Linked DNA regions of Homo sapiens. The protein of the gene in region 4 interacts with the protein of the main gene of each other region in a biochemical or structural test. Each region holds a gene or a part of one and is shown on either strand. Other genes may lie near its edges.

Region 1 (7,836 bases), on a different chromosome or scaffold from region 4:
TCCATTTATTTGTTGAACACTTGAGTTGCTTCTGCCTGTTGGATAAAGTAAGTAATGTTGTTCTGAACATTGGCATACAGTGTTTGTCAATATACAAACATTGGCATATAATGTTTGAGTCCCTGCTTTCAATTCTTTTGGGATATATACCCAGGAGTAGCTTTCTGGGTCATATGGTAATTTTTTGTTTAACTTATTGAGGAGCTGCCAAGCTGTTTTCCACAGCAGCTGCACCATTTTACATTCCTACCAGCCAGCAATCACCTTTAAACATGAAAAACATGAAAGGTTTTAAATGATATTTCCCAATTTTCTAAGTAAACATATGAATTATAGAATCATTGGGAAGCATAAGAGAAAAAAGAAGAAATACCTACTCATAATCCCAACTGTGTAAAGGTAATAACTATTAACATTCTATTTTTATTTATTTATTTATTTGTATTAAAAAAATTAAGACAGGGTCTCACTATGTTGCCCAAGCTGGTCTCAAACTCCTGGGATCAAGCTGTTGTCTCACCTCAGCCCCAAGTAGCTGGGATTACAGGCATGTGCCACCATGCCTGGGCTTCTATCATCATTTATTTTCTTTTTTTTTTTTTTGAGATGGAATCTTGCTCTGTCGCCCAGGATGGAGTGCAGTGGTGTGATCTCTGCTCACTGCAAGCTCCGCCTCCTGGGTTCACGCCATTCTCCTGTCTCAGCCTCCTGAGTAGCTGGGACTACAGGCGCCTGCAACCACGCCCGGCTAATTTTTTGTATTTTTAGTGGAGACGGGGTTTCACCGGTTTAGCCAGGATGGTCTCGATCTCCTGACCTCGTGATCCGCCCGCCTCGGCCTCCCAAGGTGCTGGGATTACAGGCGTGAGACACAGCGCCCGGCCCTATCATCATTTCTTTATGTCTCTTTTCTATATGTTTTTTCTTTTACATAGTGGATATCAAATTTTATATCACAGTTTTGTGGGCTGATTTTTCCACTTAATATTCTAGCACTGGGCTGGGCATGGTGTCTCACGCCTGTAATCCCAGCACTTTGGGAGGACAAGGTGGGTGGATCATTTGAGGTCAGGAGTTCGAGACCTGCCTGGCCAACATGGTGAGACCTCCCCCGCGCCGACCCGCCATCTCTACTAAAAATATAAAAATTAGCTGGGTGTAGTGGTGTGCTCCTGTAATCCCAGCTACTCAAGAGGCTGAGGCAGGAGAATCGCTTAAACCTGGGAGACGGAGGCTGAAGTGAGCTGAGATCGTGCCACTGCACTCCATCCTGGGTGACAGAGTGAAATTCATCTCAAAAAATTAAAGTAATAATAGTAATAATACATAAATATTCTAGCATTAGTATCATCTCATCTCATCAGAACTCTTCAAAATATTTGTATGTACTGCAGCTCAATTAGAGGTGGTCTCTGACTTTCATCAGCTTCTCCCTGGGCTCCATGACACTGGCCTGGAGTGACTCATTGCTCTGGTTGGTTGAGAGAGCTCCTTTGCCAACAGGCCTCCAAGTCAGGGCTGGGATTTGTTTCCTTTCCACATTCTAGCAACAATATGCTGGCCACTTCCTGAACAGGGAGGGTGGGAGGAGCCAGCATGGAACAAGCTGCCACTTTCTAGAGTAGCCAGACTTGCCCCTGGGCCTGTCAGCACCTACTGATGACCTTCTGTGCCTGCAGGATGGAATGTAGGGGTGAGCTGTGTGACTCTATGGTACAGACTGGTCCAGGTTCCTGGAGGTCACACTCTGGGGCTGCCAGCCAAAGGGTGCCCTTAAGTTGGAGTGTGGGTGACTTCCTGAACAGAGCTGGCACTGGGGAGGGGGTGCTCGGGGTCCTTTCTCTTCTAACAGGCCCCAGTTTTGTCTCAATGACAGTGTTTCTACACCTGTGGGTTATGACAAAGACAACTGCCAAAGAATCTTCAAGAAGGAGGACTGCAAGTATATCGTGGTGGAGAAGAAGGACCCAAAAAAGACCTGTTCTGTCAGTGAATGGATAATCTAATGTGCTTCTAGTAGGCACAGGGCTCCCAGGCCAGGCCTCATTCTCCTCTGGCCTCTAATAGTCAATGATTGTGTAGCCATGCCTATCAGTAAAAAGATTTTTGAGCAAACACTTGAATATGTGTGTCCTTTTAATTTATAATTTATGTATGCATTGATTTAATACACATTATAAAGAATACAAAACATTTAAAAAGGGAGACAAAACTACATATGAATGGCCGGGCACAGTGGCTCATGCCTATAATCCCAGCACTTTGGGAGGCCAAGGCAGGCGGATCATTTGAGGTCAGGGGATCGAGAACAGCCTGGCCAACATAGTGAAACCCCGTCTCCACTGAAATACAAAATTAGCGTGGTGGCAGGCACCTGTAGTCCCAGCTACTCGGGAGGCTGAGGCAGGAGAATCACTTGAACCCGGGAGGCGGAGGTTGCAGTGAGCCAAGATCACATCAGTGCACTCCAGCCTGGGTGACAGAGTGAGACTCCGTCTCAAAAAACAAGCAAACAAACAAACAAACCCAAACCCAAACAAAACAAAACAAAACAAAATACATATGAATAAAAGTTCTATTTTTCCTAAACTCTATAATAGGTCATTGTGCATCCCTTACTCAGGGGACCACTGCCACTCTTACTGTTTCTGATGTCTGCACTCTGCTGCCCGTGTCCTGCTGTCTGGTGAACGATGAAAAAAATGTGTGTCTTCAAGCTGGAATTAGATCCCTTCTTTTCTTTACGGTGTTCCTGTTTATCCCTCCTTCCTCTTCATCAGGAAGTGTCTTCTATGATGTGTCCCCCACATTCCTCTGTGTTTGCTTGAGGTCAAAGCAGCTTAGAACAAGAAACAGCTTAGAACAAGCCTGTAAAACAGCTTAGAACAAGCCTGAAGAAAGTGCCCCCAAGACCACATGCAGCCCGAGGGGAATTAAAGGCCAGGGGCTCTGCCTTGCAGATGGAGAGTGGCCTGGGTGCAAGGCCCCAGCATCAGCTACCTCTTGCTACACACAGACCACCGAAAACTTAGTGGCTTAAGACAACGACAACATTGATTCTCTTTTAACTGTTTCTGTGTTAAAGAACATCTGTTCACTCAACAGGTCTGTACTGAGCACCTGGGCCAGGCAGTGCTCTAGACCTGGGGATACAGCAGTGAACCAGAGAGATTTCAGGAGAGAACCCTGTTCTCCTGGGGCTTGGACTCAGCTGTGTGTACGTGACAGATCAGAAATGAGCAAACAGTCATCTGTTGAACAATCAGTGGGCAACTGATAAAGAGCTTTATTTTCCCCTGTCCCCTATCTGTTTAAACATGCTATGTGGGCCAGTTGAGCAATCTAGACAGGTCCCTTAGCTTTCTTGTTCACCTTCAGATAATTTAAAAAAGTGGTCTGAGTTACATTTTGAGTTACACAAAGTCTCATTCCAGGGGCTGCATCTGAATTGAGAGGGAATGGGGGACAGGAGAGTTAAGGGCTCCTTCTGCCTGAGGTCATGTTCTAGGCTGACTTCCTCATGGGACTTTTGTGGGCTTCTCTCTCCACAGCTCCCCTTCCACTCACAGCCTATGACTGTTATCTTAGCTTCTGCATCGTAATCTATGTCTCCTATTGTTTTCTAATGAGGTTGCCTTGCCCCTTGTAGCAGAGTCACTCTTGGATGAGATCCATAAAACCCTGCTATGATCACCTCCTTTGCTGCGGAATGTGGGGAAGCAGTTGGCAACTGAGTATGGAGGACCTCTGTCAAAACTGAGACAGAAAGAAGTGCTATTTAACATCTAGTCACAAGTAAATAATGTGGGTTATAATCTGGGCTGTAGGCTGGACGTGGTGGCTCATGCTTGTAATCCTAGATCAGGTGGGAGGATCGCTTGTGCCCAGGACTTTGAGACCAGTCTGGGTAACACAGCAAGACCCTGTCTCTACAAAAAAATTTAAAAACCGGGCATCATGGCGCATGTCTGTAATCCCAGCTACTCAGCAGGTTGAGGCAGGAGAATCGCTTGAACACAGGAGGCAGAGGTTACAGCAAGCCGAGATTGCGCCACTGCGCCTGAGCGACAGAGTCAGACCCTGTCTCAAAGAAAAAAGAAAAGAAAAAAAGAATCTGGGTTCTGCCATTTATTTATTTACTCAATTTTTTTTTTTTTTTTTTTTGAGACGGAGTCTTGCTCTGTCGCCCGGGCTGGAGTGCAGTGGAGCGATCTCGGCTCACTGCAACCTCTGCCTCCCAGGTTCAGGCAGTTCTGCCTCAGCCTCCCGAATAGCTGAGGCTATACGCGCGAGCCACCACGCCTGGCTAATTTTTTTGTATTTTTAGTAGAGAAGGAGTTTCACCGTGTTAGCCAGGATGCTCTCCATCTTCCGACCTCGTGATTCGCCCGCCTCGGCCCCCAACGTGCTGGGATTACAGGCGTGAGCCACTGCTCCCGGCCTATTAACTCAATCCTTAGAAAAACAAATGTGGCAAAGGTGGAATCATACAACATATGGCCTTTTGTGTCTTACGATATTCATTTTTGCATCTGAATGTTCAAACTAAATAATATCTACCTTGTGAGGCCATCTGAATCACTTAGGATGGTCCTTGGCACCAAATTTGCCTTCAAAAAAGCATTTGCTTCATTTAATTTCGATTTATTCACGAAGGACTAAAGGACACTGCAAGGGCGGGGAGGGAGTGTGCGCCTGCGCTCTGCGCCTCCTAGAGGGCAGTCAAGGGCTTCTGGCTGACCCGAGCGGAGATCTCGCGAGACTGTCAGACGTATGGCGAGAGGTGTGGGAGGAAGATTGTGTTGTCGCGAGAACTCTGCCTTTGGGCCGTAGGTTAGTGTGGGGCCGTGTCTCAGTCCACCCAAGGTCTCCTCGGATCGCCTGGAGAGGCACTCGGACCTGGTAAGAACGCTGTGGGCCGGGTGGAGGCTCGATGACCGCTGGCCCGCTGGGCCCGGGCTTGTCCGCCCCTTCCCGACCCGACCGACACCGGGACCGGTCTGCCTTCTCCTTCCCTTCCCTCCCCTCCACACGCCAGGCCCGGGCACCTCTTCCTGCCTGCCCGCCGGGCCCGGGCCTGTCTTCTCCCCTTCCGGCCACACGCCGGGCCCGGGCCTACGTTCTCGCCTTCCCGCCACACGCCGGGCCCGGGCTTGTCTTTTCCTCCCCGACCCTCCTCGTGCCCGGCCGTGGGCCTGTCCTTTCCTCCCCGACCCTCCTCACACCCGGCTCGGACACCTCCTGCTCCCCGCCGGCCTTCCCCTCTCTTTAGGTGTGACAGCTCCAAGTTTCCTGTTTCTCTCGCCTCTTGCTTGGATGTGGGGCGAGGCGAGGTCTGTTTTGCCGGACGGGCACAGAACATAATCCATTTCTAGCTTGTCAGGTGGAAATGCAAAGAAGATATTGGGTTTTTTTGGCCCTCTGTGTGCCAAACACATACTGTCACATTTAATTCTCCCAATAATCCCGAAAAGTAGCTTGATTATCTCTGTTTTACAGCTGAGAAGAGTAAGGCTTGCTCATTCATTGGTTCATTCCACCAGCAATCATTTATTTGGTGCCTGTATGTTCAGGATGTTGAGGATAGCAATGAAAAAAATGGACACCTAATTCTCATGGAACTAAATTCTTGTTGTGGGGAAAACAATAATCATAATCTTACGTGGCACGGGATTTAACATGGAATGATGCCATCAAGAATGGCAGAAGTAGAATGACAGAAGTCAGAGTGCTGAATTTATCTGACCCCAAAGGCAGAGCTTTTTTACTTTTAACTGTGCCTTTTTGTGTCACTTTCTAATCAGGGTCGGGTTCACCACAGTAATTGCCTTTTGGATGGACTTAGCTTTCCACCACGCACTTGGTAATTTGGAACTAAGTTTATAGAGACTCTTGAGTTACTTATTGGAATGAGGATGGCACAGGAAGTCATAGTTGGCCCATTTTTATACCGAGATCCTAGTGTGACATTTCCAAACTTTAAAGTACTTGAGACCGTTTGAGAAAGACTTACCCTAAGGATGCAGTGGCTTAGGCAATTTACTTGGTTTTCTCATTTGAAGATTTGCTAGCTTGCAGATTTGTTCAGATAAGTAAATGAGATTATGTATGTAAAGTCCAGCACAATAACGTTCCTTTCATTTTCTCCTTTCCTGCCTTCCAGGGAGCCTTTGTCCTTGGGTCTCTAAGGAAAATCCTACTCTTTGAAAGTTTTGTGGTAGTTTTTATCTAAATAAATCTCTACAATTACATTATTACCTTTGTGCAAACAGGCATTTCGGAAATGGAAAAACATGTTGAGCTATGGAAGGGGAGGAAGATGTCCTTCTCAAAGGGAGAGAAGATATTTTAGAACTACATAGTACCCCTCACCCCCCCCTTTTTTTTTTTTTTATTAAATCAGTATAGCTGTGCCAGAATCTCAGGATCCGGTGTAGGGGTTTCATAAAACTCCATAGGATATCCTGACACATATCCCTCCCCCGGTTGAGAGTCCCTAAGTTAGTGTTTTATAATACTTTCCCTCACATAGTGTTAGCATTCAGAGCCAGTCATTGCTGCTGCTGATGGACTTTGAACTCAGTCTCTTATTTCAAAGAATTAGTATTTTCTGCTTGGTTGGTGAATCTATGACACGAGTTCTCCTCTAGGTGGCAAGCTCACCATTGTGTTCTCAGGGACTATCACAGTAGTGTCAGTTTAGGTACTCAATAAATAGTTGTTGGATGAATACATAATACCTTAATACTTAATGATTCCTTCAACATACCAGGTGTGGTTAGGGACTTTGGACTCAGATCTGGGATTAAATCTTGGCTCTTCTACTTGGGAGTTTGTGACTGTAGGTAATATATTTAACCTTGTCAAGTCTGCTTTTTTTTTTTTTTTAATTAATGGTGATGATAATAGCCACTTTAATGAGGGCTAATTGAGATAGTGAGTTTTTTAAAAAAAGGCTCGGCACATAGTAGACTAGATGTAAATACTTACTGAATTCATTTACTCAGTAATTAATTGTTGAACACCTACTATACAACAGTGAACAAAAAGACAAAGTCCCCGCCATGTGGAACTTACCTTCTAGTATGTTTTCTGAAGGGAGATCAGAAAATAAATGGTTGCTACGTGCCAGACTGTGGTTAGTACTATGGAGAGTAATAAAGCATATTAAGGGGGATTGGAGGCAAGACTTTTAAAAATAAAAGATGGTGAGGAATGGCCTCAATGAGAAGATGACCTCTGAGCAGACACCTGAAGGAAGTGAAGGCCTGGGCTCGAGGATACCTGGAGGAAAGCGCAAGGGCCCTGAGGCAGAAGCATCCTTGTTAAGCTAAAGGAGCAGCAGGAGGAGAAGAGTAAGGGTAGAGGGGAAGAGTAGGTAGCAGTCATGAGGTTTCTGCAAGAGTCCTGGAGAGAGATGATGGTAATGAAATTGATGAACTTTATGTCTTTCTTTGTTATATCCTGTTCTTTGACTAAAAGTAATAAAAATAGGTAATACTTCTATAGCTCTTAATGTGCATCAGGCACTATTTTAAGTGCTTTACATATATTAGTCATCAGATCTTTCCAAGAAAGTATACCTAGCCTCAGAAAATGAAGATTTGTCACTCTTTAGGATATACAGTGGAATGTGCTGCTGGTTCAGAGAGCACTTTCTCAAGCAGTACTGAAATCAGCAGTGAATTCACTGCCTCTGTTCACATACTGGTTAGGTTGCAAAGGCAAGCCTAAAGTGTCGATAACAGACCACCCAACCAGTATGTATGCATTGGGTTAAGTTCAGTTTCATGGAAGAACTGTAGAAGGCCATGGCATTTTTTATTACTCTTCTTG
Region 2 (2,723 bases), on a different chromosome or scaffold from region 4:
GCCTTGATTTTATCTGGACACAAAGAAAAATTAGTTCTATGGATTATAATTAAAGGGGCAGCAGGAGATAACAATAAAGTTGCTTTATGATTTCATGCCATGTTGTTCAATATACCAGTTACAAACGTAATGTATCTAAAAGATGAAGTGTAATTAGTGGTTTTATAATGATGTTGAGCTTTCTGGAACTATAACCCCTCATTATAGAATGTATGTTCCTTGTGGATCTTTAAATCCATAACTGTGTACCAAAAAGATCCCCCAATAAAACAGAAAATCTCCTCTTTCACTTCTGCATGTCTTTATAATTACAGATTGCTTCTTGACTCCAGTTGGATGCAAACGCAGTCTTCCATACAGCTGAGGGAAGTGGAAATGAAGATAGAGCAAAGTGACCTCCCACTGATACTGGCACATAATTACATTCAATGTCATGTTGTTACTTCCAAAGATACTTTTTGCTTATGTTGGCTAGGTTTTAATAGTTTTTGAGGCCTTACTTAAACCCTGCTGAAGCTTTTTTCAATCAAGTTAATAGTTAAGACCTTAAAATTTATTATAACAATATGTACAAATTTGATTTGAGCAGGTTCCATGAAATTGCTACACTTGTGAAAATAGCTTATTATACTAGTACCCTGCTATTTTTTTTTTAAAAGATGTACAGAGCTATGCTACCTGTTGGCAAATGTCTTCTTTAACTATGGAACAGAGAAATTTGTGACTGTCTGGAATAAAATTATTTCTTTAATTGAATACAAAAATACTCTGCATGTAAAAATATTAAGAAAGTTTATTTTAAAATATTTTACACTCTTTTGCCCACAGCTCTTTATTCTTCCCTCATGGTGAACTGCACTACTGCACTTGTGTGGCCCACATGACTTTATATCTTTGTACAGAGCATTTCCAGCATCATATCATCCATGCTGACTGTGCCGATGATGGGCCTGAAGAACAGTTCAGCAATGACATTGGCATTGATGAATCTCAGCAGGAAAAGGGTACTATTAAGTTCGATGAATCTGTCATGGGGCCCTTGGTGCGTCATCCTGGTGTGTTCACTGAGTATTTGCTGAGTTCCCCACTGGAGTCCCTGAATGTACTTCACGCACTGCAGGCCCGGCACGTCTGGAGGGAGAAAAATCTCTTTGTTATAAAACAGCTCACCACAGAGTCCTTTGCTAGCTTTTTAAAAATAGCCATTTCTGTTTCATCCCAATTAAACAAGACCCAAAGCTTCCCGGTTAAAAGGGTAAAAGGCCAAACCAGTCTACGTTTTCAGAAGCAACGTGTCCAAGAATGAAACATCATGTGATCTTACTTAATATTTACTATGTTTCTATGCACACGTTTGCAAATACACTGGCCATGAGCCAACAAACGCACACAATTTAATATGACAGTAGAATACGGTTTAATGAATCATCACTCCAGTTCACTTTCTATGCAAATATGAAGAAGTTCATGATATTTCAAGAGGTGGGCACTTTACCTATGAGAAACAAGCCATGATAAACAAGAAGTGTTGCCATGAGACAAATGTTTTTACCATTCTTCTTTGAACTTTCCATCATTACACTGATCGTTCAGCCAATGGTGGTAAACTTCACAGCCACAAACTTTGACGCACAGTTTCATTTTACCTATTTGCCTGCAGGCCAATATTAGTCTAGAGGCCCGAATAATTTGAAAGCTAACACTGGCCACTTAGCTCATTGCACCATGATTTCTGTATTGGGGAAGATTTTGAAAAAAATAAAAGAATGATTCTAATGAGTGTTCAAAAAGGCTCTTTTCAAAAATATTAAAGTAAGAAGTTTTTGAAAATTCTTATAGTCATTAAAAGTTTAAAAAGTAAACATGAAAACATCACGAATTGTACCATGATTCAAGAATAACTTTTGTAATAGAAAACACATGACCTTTTGCAGTATAGTGTGATACCGAAGTAAAAGTGAAAGAAATAAATGCAGGAAAGTTTAAGTGGATGTAAGTTTTTATAAGGAAAGTAATAAGAGGAGGCTGCTTTTGAAGGTCCTTTGATCTTCCATGATGATAATATCGTTGCAAAGTTCTTTAACTTGTATTCAAGTAATTAGCAGTTGACCACTTGGTTTAAATGATGTTAATGATGATTGCAATCATTTTCCTTCCCTTTTCCTAAAAAATTCAACAGAAAAGTATTTTAAAAGCACCATGCCAATCATCACAGAGCAGCAGAACCAGTGTTCTTTAAAAAAATAATAATGGTAATAAGCGAGAGGCACTCCTATTATGGGCGAATATCAAATCTCATAAATAAGAACAAAAATAAAGCAACCATTTTAATCCATATTCCAGTTCTGATTACTCTAGTCCACACATTATCATCCCCTTCTATCTACAGCTTGAGATCCAGGCTTAAGACCCAATTTTGTTGTGTTTGAATTCCATCGATGAAAGTAGGAAGAGGCTTGCATGAAACTCCACCAGAAATCTGAAGCTTCTCTAGGTCTAGATTCATGGCTTGTGAAAACTTCATCTTGTGTATGCCACATTACTTTTCTCTGTGTTCACAATATACCCCTCCACCTTCTCCCCACCCAAGTGGTTCCCCCCCACACAGAGACACACAAACTGGCCTTCAAAATAAGGTCAGGGAAGAGAAAATGCAAATGGACTCCACAGTTTTATATCTCCTTAAGTTTGAACCTATATATATAATGTATTTAAATTTATAT
Region 3 (7,038 bases), on a different chromosome or scaffold from region 4:
TTATAGGCGTGAGCCACCGCGCCCGGCCACAGTCACATCAAACTTTCAATATGAACCTTTCTGAAGTCAATAGCACCTGCGCACATACTTCCTCAACTTTTTTTGTATTGGTAACGTCTACTTATTTACTTGAAGTCTGGACCTATAAAGAAAAATAAGTACGGAAAATGTAGCAGGGAGAGATGTCTTTATTTCAAAGTTTTTTTTCCAACAGCTTCGGAAACATGCCTAAAACTCCTGAAATACAGAAAATTAACAGAAATCACCCTAAACATCCCAGTGGTAAGTAAAATAGATGAGAAAAGAAAGAAGAAAGAATACCTGAGAAATGAACAGAAGTTTTGGGCCACTTACTAAAATGTACCTACATAGGATCAAAGCATTCAGTATGTATTATTAAGATTTAAGGTTTAGATATTAAAAAGTACTGAAAAATGGTAATATAAGCTAGATTCTCATAAAATTCCAGAAAAGCATTCCACTGTGTAAACATGCAGAAAATGACATTAATACTTACAGTTAGAGGAACAGGGTCTTGAAAAGCCAGGCTCATTTCATGGCAGTAAAGAAATAAAAGTAGGCGCTCACACTTCTAAGCAAAAATAAATAAAAACTGAGATAAAATATTATAAAACAATGAATTCACAGCTTATTTTAAATAACAATCTCAGAGGTCCCAAAGTGTCAGACTAAAAATTAAAACCCAGATGAATACAAAAAAATTACTGATTCTCGGAGTTTTGCTCTCCTTCCCAATATTTGGGAACAGGCCCTGTAATTGAATGAACTAAGACAATCACTAGAAAACCATTTGAAGTTTTCTAACAATAAATTTGCACTTATTGCTCCAGTCTGTGTATTATAAATTAGTAATAGTCTATAAAGGAAGAACGTACGTCTCTTAGGAGAACTGGAGGTGGACCTTCTCAATATGCATCCAGACCTAAGGCACCTTTCTGCATGCCGAAGGTCCAACCATGTGCTCTGCTATTCATATACTTCCCTGCTTTATGGGTTTATCCCAGTAACCACTGAGTAGTACTGGCAGTGAATGGGCACGTCCCCTCTTGCATGACAACTTTCATATTGACTGTTCTACTTAATAATTTAGCAAAGGAGTTTTTTTGGTAACAAAGTGTTGACTTGGTAGCTTTAAATGTTATTTACAGTTAAATATATCAGTTGGCTTTGATGCATAAGTCTAGTCCCATTCAGTGAAAAAAAAGGAATTATTTCCAGGAAGAGTAAAGAAAAAACCCAGCTCCTTGGTGGCAGTTCTAAGGAAAAATCTTATCTATAGTAGGAAATAAAACAAAATAGAAATTTACTTAAGGTAGATTAAAAGTCTAGGGTACATATTCCATCTTGTTCAGGTACAATAAGCTTCTATAAAATACATGCATTAATTCTGTGATTTTTTTAATTTAAAGAAAGTTACAGTCTTTAAGATTCATGTACCTTTGTAAACAAAAAAAAATACTCTTAAATAAAAAGGATCAGTATAAAATCTGGATGGATATACACCTCTTTGACAAAAGGTACCACAGTACAATATTGCACTACAATACAATAATGCATCTTACCAAAGACTTACCCTTTTATCTATAGGTGTTAACTTAACAAGGCCTTCAGTTTTCTTTTTTTCTGAGTTGTGACTGGGAGCATCACAATCATATTCAACTTCTGGTTTAGATAAGTCTCGGCAGAAAGTGCAAATCCACTCTCCACTGTTAGGGGACAATGTACTTTTGAATTCCTAATGCATCATTTCCTCTCTTCACTATTTCCCTTTCCCACCTCCTCCATGACATCTATGATACAGAATTGTTCATTTGGCATGAATTTTAATCACTGAGCATTTACCACATACCACTAGGTATACTGCACCATGCTGAGAGGAAACAGCAGAAATATAATGCAAGGGCCTAACAAACATCAAAATCTAGTTAAGAAGGTGTGAGATACATATATTGAAAAAAAAGAAACACCTAAACAAATTTAATCTAGGGCTCACATATCTAGGGCATAATTGAATTTTTTTCCTCCAAAGGATTCAGGAACTAGAAAAGCTCTTTGTACTATTCTTGTTACTCTTAAGTTTATAAAATTAAATTTTCAAAAGTATGGCCTTCCAAGAACTGAGAGATCAACCCAATGGCTCTTAACCATCTTGGTCATGATGATGATCATCATCCCCATAGGGTATGAGAATTTACTTGAAATACTTGTAAAAGATACAGTTCGATGCCTGGCAAAAAGACATAATAAACTGTGGTAGCTGTTATGCATAGGGACATTGTTCCTTATGATGATCCCTTGTGATAATTTAAAGGGCCTGTTATTTTTTTTTCTTTTTGTAATGACTAGGGAGAGGGTCTTGCTCTGTTGCCCAGTCTGGGGTGCAGTGGTGCAAGCACAGCTTACTGCAGCCTTGACCTCTCAGGCTCAACCAATCCTCCCACCTCAGCCTCCTGAGTAGCTGGGACTACAGGCATGCACTACCATACCCGGCTAATTTTTTATTTTGTACAGACAGACAGGGTCTCCCTGTGTTGCTCAGGCTGAATGATTAGTTTTTTGAAAGAAGCACAAAGAATAAGCGGAAGGGTATGGGAAAACCTAGACTATTCATTGGGATTTTGGAGTATACACTTGTGCCAAGTGGAATTTCATTTAAGTTTTTTCAAAGGCTTTCTGTTAAAATAATCTTCAAAAGTTTACAGTAAAAGAATGTGGGAAGGGAAGTACTATCTTACCTTGGAAAATTTGTCAATGTGGGCACATGACAAGAAAGATGGAATACTTTGGGGCACTTTTCACAGCAGAGGAGTTCCCCTCCGTTTTGACAAACTGCACACCAGTCCTCATTGGGGTCATCCTCTTTCCTTGTCTCTCCAACATGAAGAGGTGACTTCTGGGAAGGATCCAACCATTCAGACTTTCCATTTGAGGAATTGTCCTGGTGAAGTCCAGGTTGATCTCCTGTACTATCAGGGGCATCTGATCTTAGCACAGTCTCCTCAGAAGTAGAGCTCTGACTGCTATTTAAGAGCAGGGAGGTGAGTATGCTTCTTGGATAATTGGCCTGTAGTAGAAAAAAAATATATTTAACTGGCTTTAAAAAAAATTTTATCACTAATGCAATTCTGAACTGTAGACCACTCTCTGGTGAGCACCTGGCTGCTTCAAAGGAATCTTCAGGAGAAGGGTATATGTTTATTGCTAACTGGCTTAGAAGACATGAACCTCTACTAAAAAATACCAAAATAAATAGAGAAAAAATCTAAGTCTGGGGATGGCTACAGAAATTAGAGAATGGGTTGGGTAGAGTGGAAGTCAACCACATGACCTATATATATATATATATACCTCACTGGAGCTGTTCATTCAAATTATACCTAAGATACAAAAATTATAAGATGAATCTAAACTTTCTGTTGAAGCCCAGGATGGTGAAAATTTCAAATCAATAACAAAAACAATCTCCTTCAAATGTTTTCAAAAATTTCAAAGTAATAAATGTAGATATAGTTAAAAGCACTTATTCCTTGGAAGAACTATTTTCAAACCTAGCTTTTTCTTCTGCTGTTTACCTCCATATTTCTAAATAAAATGATTGTTAAAAATTGCAATACATCTATAATCCTTACTAGTGAAGATCAGGAGATTAGGTTTTTACATTCTGATTCTCCAACCCCGTCCTGCTTCCATTCGTGCGTGCGCGCACACACACACACACACACACACACACACACAAAACCACCACCACCACCATTCACCCCATCCCTTTAACTTAGTTTTGATTAAGCATTGATTGTTTTAGTTGGTAGGTACTGGTATAACTGTTTATTGCCAGTATCTATTCTAACTGATCAGTATTTGTCTTGTACTGGTTAAGTATTCTGAAAATCACAATTTTTGGTTAAGTGCATATTCAGGTTATATCCTGATTGCATCACAGTTTTTAGTTACATTCGTACTCAGGTGTTTGTTTACATCATTATTATTATTATTTAAATATTGTTCACTGCAGACCCACAAAATGTACTAAGACATTTTTTGTACAACTTTTTGTTTTTACTAAGACTCTGTAATTACCTTATATTTTCAGTTGCTTATCTTTCTAGGTACCTATTTCTATGTTATTCTCACAATCTCCAACAGGAGATTCTCAATACTGTTGAAGCATTTTTCTCCCTTGGGAGTCCTATGTCTTCCTGCTACAGACTACTGCACAAGCTGCTGCTGCTGCTGTACTGGGGGTTGCCTTTTTCTTCTGTGTCAGATTCCATTTTTGGAATCTTATGTCTTCTTTCTTGTTTTACTATATTTTTGATGATTCATATTATCAAGTATCTTCCTGAGAATGAGTACATAAGAATTATTTTGAGAACTTGCACGAAAATGTTTAGTTAATCTTCAAGTCAATCTGATTGATAATTTGCCTGGGTATAAAACTCTGATTAAAGAAAGAATATCTCCTTTTAACTGCCCAGCCTCCATATCTGAGCCTCTGATTTTTAAAAACTTTCCTGTTTTTCCATCTTTGTCTTTTTGTTTAATTTACTGAGAGATTCCCTCAAATTGTCTTTAAATCCTTTTAAATATAACATTAAAAAAAAACTCCTAAGAGCTATTTAAAAGATTCTCTCACCCTACCCACCATGCATAGGAATAGCATTGCAAGCATTCATAATTACATTTTGAGGCCTAGATTCTTCATCTGATTCTTGCTTCACTATAACAACAGGGAAATCATAATTTTCCGGTGGTCCACTGTTTTCTTGTTTTATTCGAATTGGCTCCAGCATGACCACTGGGACTTTGTGTGTAGAGTCAGCTCCTGCTGGTTTGCTGGAAGAGCCAGAGCTGTAAGTATGAGAGAGAAGAAAAAGCAATCTAAGAATGTTAAGCTAAATACCTCATAAAAAGTATAACAACAACTTTCTAAAATACTGTATCTTCACAACAATAAGTATGTTAACATCAGCAATTAATGATGCATAACAAATGAAACTGGTGTATGCAAGTTTCATTTATGATAAAAATGTTTTACATATTAACCTATCTAAATAGTTATATATCTAGAAAGATGTTTCAATAAACCTAAACTTTTAAAAACCTGAGGCTTTACAATTAGGCAACCAGATTTAGTATCTTAGAACTGGCATCTGATTTTAGGCTTTCTCATTTCCTTCTCTAGTCAGTAGCAAAGTGAATACTTTGGTGAAGACAATGAAATAATCATGTATTTACACAATACTATTTAAAGAAGGTAGTGGGTCAAAAAGCTTTTACAGAGATTCACTATGTTCTCATGGGATTAAAGGCAAACTTTTCTCCCTCAGACAATTCTTCCATATGATAAAGTAAGAACTGGGTTCACTAGCTAGGAGGAATTTTCAGGCATAATGCAGGGAAGAGGAGAGCAGTTGCTTAAAATATAGAATTTCAATAACTGTATATTTATTTTAAAGTAGAATCAACATTTAGTCATTAGAGATCAAATTAGCATAAAATTTTATCTTTTCTCTAAATTTGTGTTTCTATATAGTGTACTGTGTTATGCCTATTCATTTTTATGTTTTCTTTGCTATTATATGAATATCCAACATTTCTTATTTTCAACATATTGACAAATATTCTTCTATCTTCAAAGGTAAATTTGTACTTTTGTTAATCCCTTAACTAATTCATTAAAATATATAGTAGTTATTAAAATTTTAATTAAAAATAAAGGAAATTGTTCAAAATATATTGAGTATCAAAACATGTTGAACACTGGCAAAAGAAATCTAATTAGAGATTTTTATATACTAGAAAATATGGTTTAGTCAGTTTACCTTCCTCGGCTTCCAACGCTGGAGGCACTAGGTGAACGTATTGGGGGGTGTACACTAGTCATAGTAACAGGTCCTGAGGAGGGGGAAACCATACATTCATAAAACGAATGAATAATTATGCATTGAAGTCCTGTTGAATGTGTTCACTTAGCACTACATTGAAACTGGGAACCATGATGAAATTCTATGAAACAGTAAGTAGTTGCTGAATTTTCAGCAGTCTGTTACAGCCTGTTACACCGGCAGGGTTTTTCAGCCTCTGCACTATTGACTTTTGGGCCAGATAATTCCTTGTTGTGGAGGAATGTCTCTGCATTTCAGGATGTTTAGCAACATCCCTGGCCTCCACCAATTATTAGATACCAGTGGCATCTCTCTATACTTCCCAGCTTGGGGTGTGACAATCAAAAACATCTCCAAACATTGCCAAGTCTTTCTGTGTTAGAGTAACAGGGGTAAGATCTCAGTGAGACCCTAGTGCCAGTGGAAGCTACAGAAGACAACGAAAGGTGGTACGGGCTGATAGAAAAGGAGTTCAAAAAAGAAAACCAAGTAAACAAAATTAAACCAACTAATGGAAGACACAGAAAGATCAATGGGTTCAGACTTAAGGCAATAAACAAAAGAGGGATTCTGGACTACTGCCCTAAAAAGATTAAGAAGCTATGCTCTGGTGGTAGTGTAGACTGGAACAAGGAAGATCTAATTAAAAGCAGCCAAGAAAGAAGGAAAACTGTTGCAAATAATTGATTTGAACTGATGAAGGCCCAAACTAAACAGTAACAAGTAGGAATACAATGAAAGTGGGAAGTAGAAAAAAAATTCCGAATTGACAGAAGTTCTAAAAGGTTTGATGAACAACAGGATGTGGCTGATAAAATGAAGATTATCATTTCATTGGTTTGTAAACTCTGGAGAATTTAATTTAAAAATAAAAGGCCTGGACAACAAAGACCCGTCTCTAACCAAAAAAAAAAAAAAAAAAATTAGCCAGGCCTGGTGGCACCTACCTGTAGTCCCCACTACTGGGAAGGCTAAAGCAGGAGGATCACTAGAGCCCAAGCGTATGAGGCTGCAGTGAACCATGATTGCTACACCCTGGGCAACAGAGTGAGACCCTGCCTCAAAATCAATCAAAACAATGGCTATTTATAATCTCCTGATAATATAAGAATACATGCTTCATTTTAGAATA
Region 4 (7,038 bases):
GCTTCTGGGATCATTCATCCATGTATCAATATTAATAAAATAAATTCTTCTATTGCCAGGACTGTCAGGAATAGCTAAAGATGTAAAAGATCTAAACCAGTGTGTTCTTTCAGAGAATAAGTTAAAAATAATATTTTATAGAGTTAAAAAGAAAAGCACTTGGATTTTTTTTTTCCAATGGCTGGACTCAGTTGGCCAATACCCTTGTTTGCCTGCTGAGTAACTCTTTGGCTGGCAATTGATTTTTTTAAGAGCTGTGGTTATGTGCTAGTTCATTAGCATGTGAATAATTCTTCATATTAAGTTTTCATTTGTTTGTCGTAAATCTCTAAACCCTGCAGGAAAGCAGAATATCTTTGACAGCTTTCAAACTTCACTTCTATCACACACAGCACTCCACCAGCACCTCTAGGAAACAGTGGTTCAAAAGGCCCTGCCCCAAGACCCCAGCATGTTAAGAGCGTTAGTTTAAAATCTCCAGTTCATCCTAGAACAATCATTTTAAAAGGAAAAAAAGAAGTGGGGAAGTCCTATAGAAAGCAATGGAAAGGGAAAAGTTCTCAACCCAGAATCGGGGCTTAGGTTCTAGTTCCTGGTTTGCTATAAATGGCACTTTGACTTTGGAATGTCTCTGGCTTCCGTTTATCCATTAGTCAGAGAATGATGGGACAGATTACTTCTGAAGACCCCTTATGTCCTATAAATCTCATAGTTCTCAACAAGAGGGAAACGGGAACAACAGGGGCAGAAACCAACGAGAGGCTGAGGAAACCAAACCAATGAGTTTTGGATTGTAGCTAACCGAGGAGAACCAGGTGTGTCAAAGGTGATGAAAGTCAGATGTGTAAAAAGCAAGAAGGAAACAAAATGAAGAACATGAGCCCTAAGAATTCAGTGTCTTTCCCTGGTAAAACTAAGAACATCAGGAAAGCCACACTCGATGAGGCACACATTTTTCCAAGCCAGTTTTCACTCTGACAGGGTTACCTCAAGTGATTGTTTGAGAGAGGGTAGAGGGGTTGACTACACTCATTCAATCTGCCAAATTAGAAAAGTCACCCAGAATACCCTGTGCTTTTTGAGTGATTTTCATGTTTATCTCCCGTAGCTTGCTATTTTGTTATTCAAAAGGAGTGTAAACTTAGGGCATTCATGTATAATACCTTTCATAACTCATGTTAAAATGCTGATGTTATTGGATTTCTCAGGAACACTACTGTTCTATTTCTCCATTCAAAAAGGTAAAAAAAAAATTAATTACTCTATTTTCATCATTAATCCCATTTCCCCCATTGTCTTTGTATTCTACATAGGAAGCATGCCATAGATCTATAATTGAATTTACTCATCTATATAAAACAGTACTTTTAATCCCATCCTGAAAATCAAAATATATTTTTGAAAATCAAAATATGTCAAAATTGAAAATCAAAATGTCAAAATATTGAAAATTGAAATATATCAAAATTAATTATATTTGATGTATCCCTCAAAAAATTGATTTCTCCTTACAGAAATCATTTTGCTTTCCTGGAAAAACACTGGGTTCAAGTGCAGCTTTCTTCATTCCGTTCTGGTCTGTCCAGTATATGAAAAGCACAAGCACACAATGACCAGTGACAGATTCACCATGAAGCTAATGAAGCTTCATGGGGCCCTTCCCTTGTGCAGAAGTCCTTCCAGTGCTTGGGGAAGGGCCGAAGCAATTTTATTCTCATAATTTGTAATATTTTCCTTAGAGAGACTCCACTACTGTGTATATTTTATGCCCCACAAAACCTGAATTCACCCCATCATGTCCCATTTGTAATTAAGCTTTCTTTCCTGTTAAGGAGGGACGCTTACCCAGCCCTTTGATGTACGGTCTGAAGATAAATACACTGTTAGCCCCCAACTAGAAGTGTAAAATCATTAAGACAAAATTTGAGAATGATACGGCTCCTATAATGGCAATCTTTGGATGATACTGTCCAAGCTGATGGAAAGTGTAAGGACTCCACTTTGCTTTGTAAAAAATACAAAAAAACAGCCATGGAAGTGCAGTACATTTTGTATGGAACATTGTACCACATTGTACCAAATGTCATGTTAAATTAATGATTCAAGATAAAATGCAGACCAAATTTGACCAGGGTTTTAAGAGGTTCTCTCTCCATAAAGCAGGCTGGCCACGATCTTCTCACTAGGTTTGAGGGTAAGGAGGTCCCCTGTGAAATATGAAAGTGAACTCTCTGCTATCTAAGAATTGGTGAATTGGTTGCAAAGAAAGGCAGACCAGGCCCACCCAGGGATCACTCTTGCAGTTTGACAGATCTACCTGGAGGCTGAAAGAATCTATGCAGCCTTCGGAAATGCAGTGAAAACAGTATAATCAGATATGACTAGGGAAAAAATAAAACAACTGGTGTTCATTTGCATGTCAACACCCAGAATTCTCTGCTAGTTCACCTCTTCTTCAGAATGCAGAAAGGATTGAAAAAGCTGGAATGGGGCCGGGCATGGTGGCTCATGCCTGTAATCCCATCACTTTGTGAGGCAGAGGTGGGTGGATCACCTGAGGCCAGGAGTTCAAGACCAGCCTGGCCAACATGGTGAAACCCCGTCTATACTAAAAAATAAAAAAATTTAAAAAAAATTGCCGGGCGTGGTGGTGGGTGCCTGTAATCCCAGCTACTCTGGAGGCTGAGGAGAATCACTTGAACCCAGGAGGTGGAGGTTGCAGTGAGCCTAGATTGCGCCATTGCACTCCAGCCTGGGCAACAGGAGCAAAACTCCATCTCAAAAAAAAAAAAAAAAAAAAATGAAATGGTTTGGCATGATGGTGGGGTGCTGATTCCTCTCTCTGTCCTTGAGTATTTACTGCCAGGAAATCCTGACCAACATCAATTGCCAAGGGGTTAAAGTCACATTGTTGTTAAATTGGGAGAGAAAATTAGCAGGATTTTGTGCCCTATGTTCAACTATTACAGAGTTTCAAAAACAGGAACCTGGAGCTTTATATGAGGGGACAGGGGAAGTAAAGGGGAAGAGTGACAAGGGTGATTTATCAGGGCATAGTTCCAGATAAATCACTTACATGGAGGTGAAAGAATTTCATGCATATGTTCTGTGCCAAGAAGCCAAATGGTTGAGCAGAAGCTCTGAAAGTTGAAGTGGGCAGTTCTGGGTACAGTCTTTCCACATGTGAAAAGGTGATGATTTTATATTCATGTTATTTGTACTCCTGCATGTGCAGTTGGTCTTTTCAGGTGTCCAGATCATCATTTTCTCATGACATGAAAGAAAGCCAATAAAGGCTAGTTGTGGTGGCTCACACCTGTAATCCTAGCACGCACTTAGGGAGGCCAAAGCAGGACGATCACTTGAGCCCAGGAGTTCAAGACCAGCCCAGGCAACATACATAGCAAGACCTCATCTCAAAAAATGAAATAATTTTTTTTTAGAAAAAGAAAGTAAATATTTCATTAATATAAATTATAATACACTGTAAAATGCCTGGAGGACAAGAAACACGTTTTCTCTAGGTTCTGTGAAAGCATCATTATCCATTCACATTTTTCTCATAATTAGAACCTGACGTTCTGGAAAAATACAGTAAATTTTCATCGATGTTACTTGCTCTGCCCCCCTTGTATTCCTCCCATTAATAATATTAATCCTGAAAAGAAAAAAAGAAAAAGGAAAGAAACCACCCAAGCAAAATGTTTAAGAAATACGGTAAGGACAGTTTGGTCCCAATTTCCTTAAAAATTAGAGCCACCAAGTAAACCTGTTTGGGGGTCCTCACATCTGTCCTCTTTTGGAGTTTGCTAAGTAGTACAGTTGAAGTGAATTTTTTGGTAACAAAAGTAAAAACTTCCAGAATAACTCCAGTAAAGGGTGTTGATGTGACGTACAAGTTTGGAAATATATTTAATATCTGAGACTCCTCAATGTTGGTGTTATTTCCTCCAGTTTAGAACAAACTTAATCTTTTGATGAAAATCATAGAGTTCCATAGATATGAATAGAATCTCCAACCAGTGCATCTTGAAGCCGGCTGCCACGGCCACTCATGCACCTTCTCTCCTTTCAGGAGAGAATTGTCAGCATCTCTGCTCAAAACAATCTTTACTTTTAGTCCATCAGAGACTTCATGTTTGTCGTGCATGCACACTCACACCTCTCCACACATATGCCCACTCCCCACACACATCCTGCTTCTGAGAAATGCAACTAGAATTTCCTCCGGAGAAGAGATGGAAACCCCTGATTGAGAAATTTAAGGCCTAGGAAAGGTAAATGACTTTTCTTAAGTCACATGGCTCACCACAGAACCAAAGCTGGAACACACATACCCTCAGCTCTTCTTCCAGTGCTTTCAGGTATACAAGTATTTGAACAGGATTCAAGGTTTAACTCCTTATGTGTCATTCAGTGTATCCAGTGTAAGTAAAATGTTACCCCTTAGTCAGAACAGCCTTGAGAATTTCTCAATGACTACAAACCTTGCTTAGTTCTATACAAGGGAAGTAAAAGAGAGAGAATGTCATGACCAAATGACTTAACTTTTGAAGGCAGCCTATTGCAAACTTGAATAATTGGGGCATGTATTTTATTGATTGTTTGACCTATAAGGACAGATATTTTAAAATATAAATTCAAAATTGCTTTTTTGCAGCATTCACCTGTAGGCCTTCTATATCTGCTCTTTGTGAAATAGATGGCTTCCAGAGCATTAAAAAAAGAAATAGACATTTTCTTGGTTCAAGAGCTGTAATCTGCTTTCCGAGTGATTTTTCATAGTTAAGCATATTTTATGTGCACATAGTTTCATTTGAGATCTGAGAGGATTTCATCTAAAACGGAAAAGTTATTACCTGTGAAGGAGAACAAAGGAAAAGGAAAAAGAAATTTTAAGAAAAAAAAATTTTTTTAAACCTGTAGTTACTTTATGTTCAAGTGGGTATTTTCAACGCTGAGTTGCTGAAATGGTTTTTTATTGAAAGAAGGTTAAAAGTGTATTTCATTGAAAGCCAAGATAAACAGTAGATTTTGTATCATTTTAAAAATCAACAATCGGCCGGGTGTGGTGGCTCATGCCTGTAATCCCAGCCCTTTGGGAGGCCAAGGCAGGCAGATCACTTGAGGCCAGGAGTTCAAGACCAGCCTGGCCAACATGGTGAAACCCCATCTCTACTAAAAATACAAAAATCAGCTGGGTGTGGCAGTGCATGCCAGTAATCCCAGCTACCCAGGAGGCTGAGGCACAAGAATTGCTTGAACCTGGGAGGTGGAGGTTGCAGTGAGCCCTGATTGTGCCACTGTAATTCAGTCTGGGCGCAGAGTGAGACTCTGTCTCAAAAACAAACAAACAAATAATATAAAAATCAACAATGAAGACTCCCCAAACAAAAGAAATCAGGATTCTTAGCCAGTCATAGGTAAAGTGTTACAGTGTAAATTGAAGGGAAAGAAGACCAAAATTGGTGAAATATGTTTGGTCCCAGAAGATAATTAAGATGAATAAAAGAACTTGAGAGTATTTTCTCATTATTAAGCATCTTCAGCTTTAAAGATTTTAGTTAGCAAAGCAAGTTTACATAAACAGTTTTCTGAACCTGGGATGGCATTCACTGTGAGTTAGAAATCTCCAAGTCATCCACGTTTTCCCTGTTTTATTTGCAGCCATTCGTTATCTATGACATGAATTCCTTAATGATGGGAGAAGATAAAATCAAGTTCAAACACATCACCCCCCTGCAGGAGCAGAGCAAAGAGGTGGCCATCCGCATCTTTCAGGGCTGCCAGTTTCGCTCCGTGGAGGCTGTGCAGGAGATCACAGAGTATGCCAAAAGCATTCCTGGTTTTGTAAATCTTGACTTGAACGACCAAGTAACTCTCCTCAAATATGGAGTCCACGAGATCATTTACACAATGCTGGCCTCCTTGATGAATAAAGATGGGGTTCTCATATCCGAGGGCCAAGGCTTCATGACAAGGGAGTTTCTAAAGAGCCTGCGAAAGCCTTTTGGTGACTTTATGGAGCCCAAGTTTGAGTTTGCTGTGAAGTTCAATGCACTGGAATTAGATGACAGCGACTTGGCAATATTTATTGCTGTCATTATTCTCAGTGGAGGTAAGATTTGTCTTTTGATCTTCTATGAAAGAGGGTGGGATGATGGTGGGGTGGCCAAAAGAATTTTGGATTTCCTTAGTGTTAGTCTGCATTGTCACTTTAAGTGCCAGTGGCATGATGCCATGAATCATCACTACACGTGCAAAACACTGTACCAAGAAAGAGTGTCATAGGTTTGCGGTGTGAAGGTTATAAGTAACCCAGGATCTTCTCTTTCATCCCTCAACAATATATTTTTTCCAGTCAAATGCCCTCTTCTCCTTTTTCTTTTTCTTTTCTTTTCTTTGTCTCTTTCTTTTCCTTCCAGAAAGGAAGATTAGAGGCCAGTCTAATCTTTGGTTCCTGTAAGTAATGGCATGTATAACTTTGCTTAAGACAATGCTCACTTGATGTAGAGAAGGGACCACTAAGTATTTCTGGTCAAATCATGCTCCTGCCCCACCATCAGTAAGATACTACTTTGAATTGCTTTTGTGATATCAGGAATTAAGGAATACCTACTGACCTCCACCCACTCTCTTGTGTGGATTCCTCTGATGGCTTCCCTTAAAGTACCTTTGTGAGGTAGTTGGTTGTGATTAAGAATGCAATGTGAACCGAACACACAACATAGAAATAAATTTAGTTATTTAGCAATTTGTTGTATTTTTGGCCCTGCAAGTAGTACATGATCTGACTAACCAATTCCAAAAGCCAGATTTTCTTCTGAGTGTGACTTTTTTCTTTTTTTTTTCTTTTTTTTTTTTCCTTTTTTTTTTTTTTTTTTTTTTTGTGAGACAGGGCCTCACTCTGTCACCCAGACTGAAGTGCAGTTGCACAGTCATAGCTCACTGCAGCTTCTAACTGCAGTTAGTAAGCTATGATCATGCTACTTCATAAAAGTAATACGTGGCCATTTTACAGTTGGGCTCAAGTGATTC

The links.
Region 1: the proteins of PPARG (region 4) and NCOA4 form a complex in vitro, tested with the Homo sapiens proteins (2 studies listed by BioGRID, with this or other methods).
Region 2: the proteins of PPARG (region 4) and NR0B1 form a complex in vitro, tested with the Homo sapiens proteins (2 studies listed by BioGRID, with this or other methods).
Region 3: the proteins of PPARG (region 4) and TRIM24 interact in a test that uses a peptide from one of them, tested with the Homo sapiens proteins (2 studies listed by BioGRID).

What each region holds. Positions count from the first base shown.
Region 1 is NC_000010.11:46,027,592-46,035,427, reverse strand, and holds the start of NCOA4 (nuclear receptor coactivator 4), read left to right. Parts: upstream 1-4,804; 5' UTR 4,805-4,902; intron 4,903-7,836. Other genes in the region: MSMB (beta-microseminoprotein isoform a precursor), read left to right, coding at 1,877-2,006. UniProt on the Homo sapiens protein: Cargo receptor for the autophagic turnover of the iron-binding ferritin complex, playing a central role in iron homeostasis. Acts as an adapter for delivery of ferritin to lysosomes and autophagic degradation of ferritin, a process named ferritinophagy.
Region 2 is NC_000023.11:30,303,693-30,306,415, forward strand, and holds the end of NR0B1 (nuclear receptor subfamily 0 group B member 1), read right to left. Parts: intron 1,132-2,723; coding exon 887-1,131; 3' UTR 514-886; downstream 1-513. UniProt on the Homo sapiens protein: Nuclear receptor that lacks a DNA-binding domain and acts as a corepressor that inhibits the transcriptional activity of other nuclear receptors through heterodimeric interactions.
Region 3 is NC_000007.14:138,575,251-138,582,288, reverse strand, and holds part of TRIM24 (transcription intermediary factor 1-alpha), read right to left. Parts: intron 5,917-7,038; coding exon 5,844-5,916; intron 4,870-5,843; coding exon 4,701-4,869; intron 3,086-4,700; coding exon 2,757-3,085; intron 1,728-2,756; coding exon 1,595-1,727; intron 593-1,594; coding exon 518-592; intron 1-517. UniProt on the Homo sapiens protein: Transcriptional coactivator that interacts with numerous nuclear receptors and coactivators and modulates the transcription of target genes.
Region 4 is NC_000003.12:12,411,037-12,418,074, forward strand, and holds part of PPARG (peroxisome proliferator-activated receptor gamma), read left to right. Parts: intron 1-5,667; coding exon 5,668-6,118; intron 6,119-7,038. UniProt on the Homo sapiens protein: Nuclear receptor that binds peroxisome proliferators such as hypolipidemic drugs and fatty acids.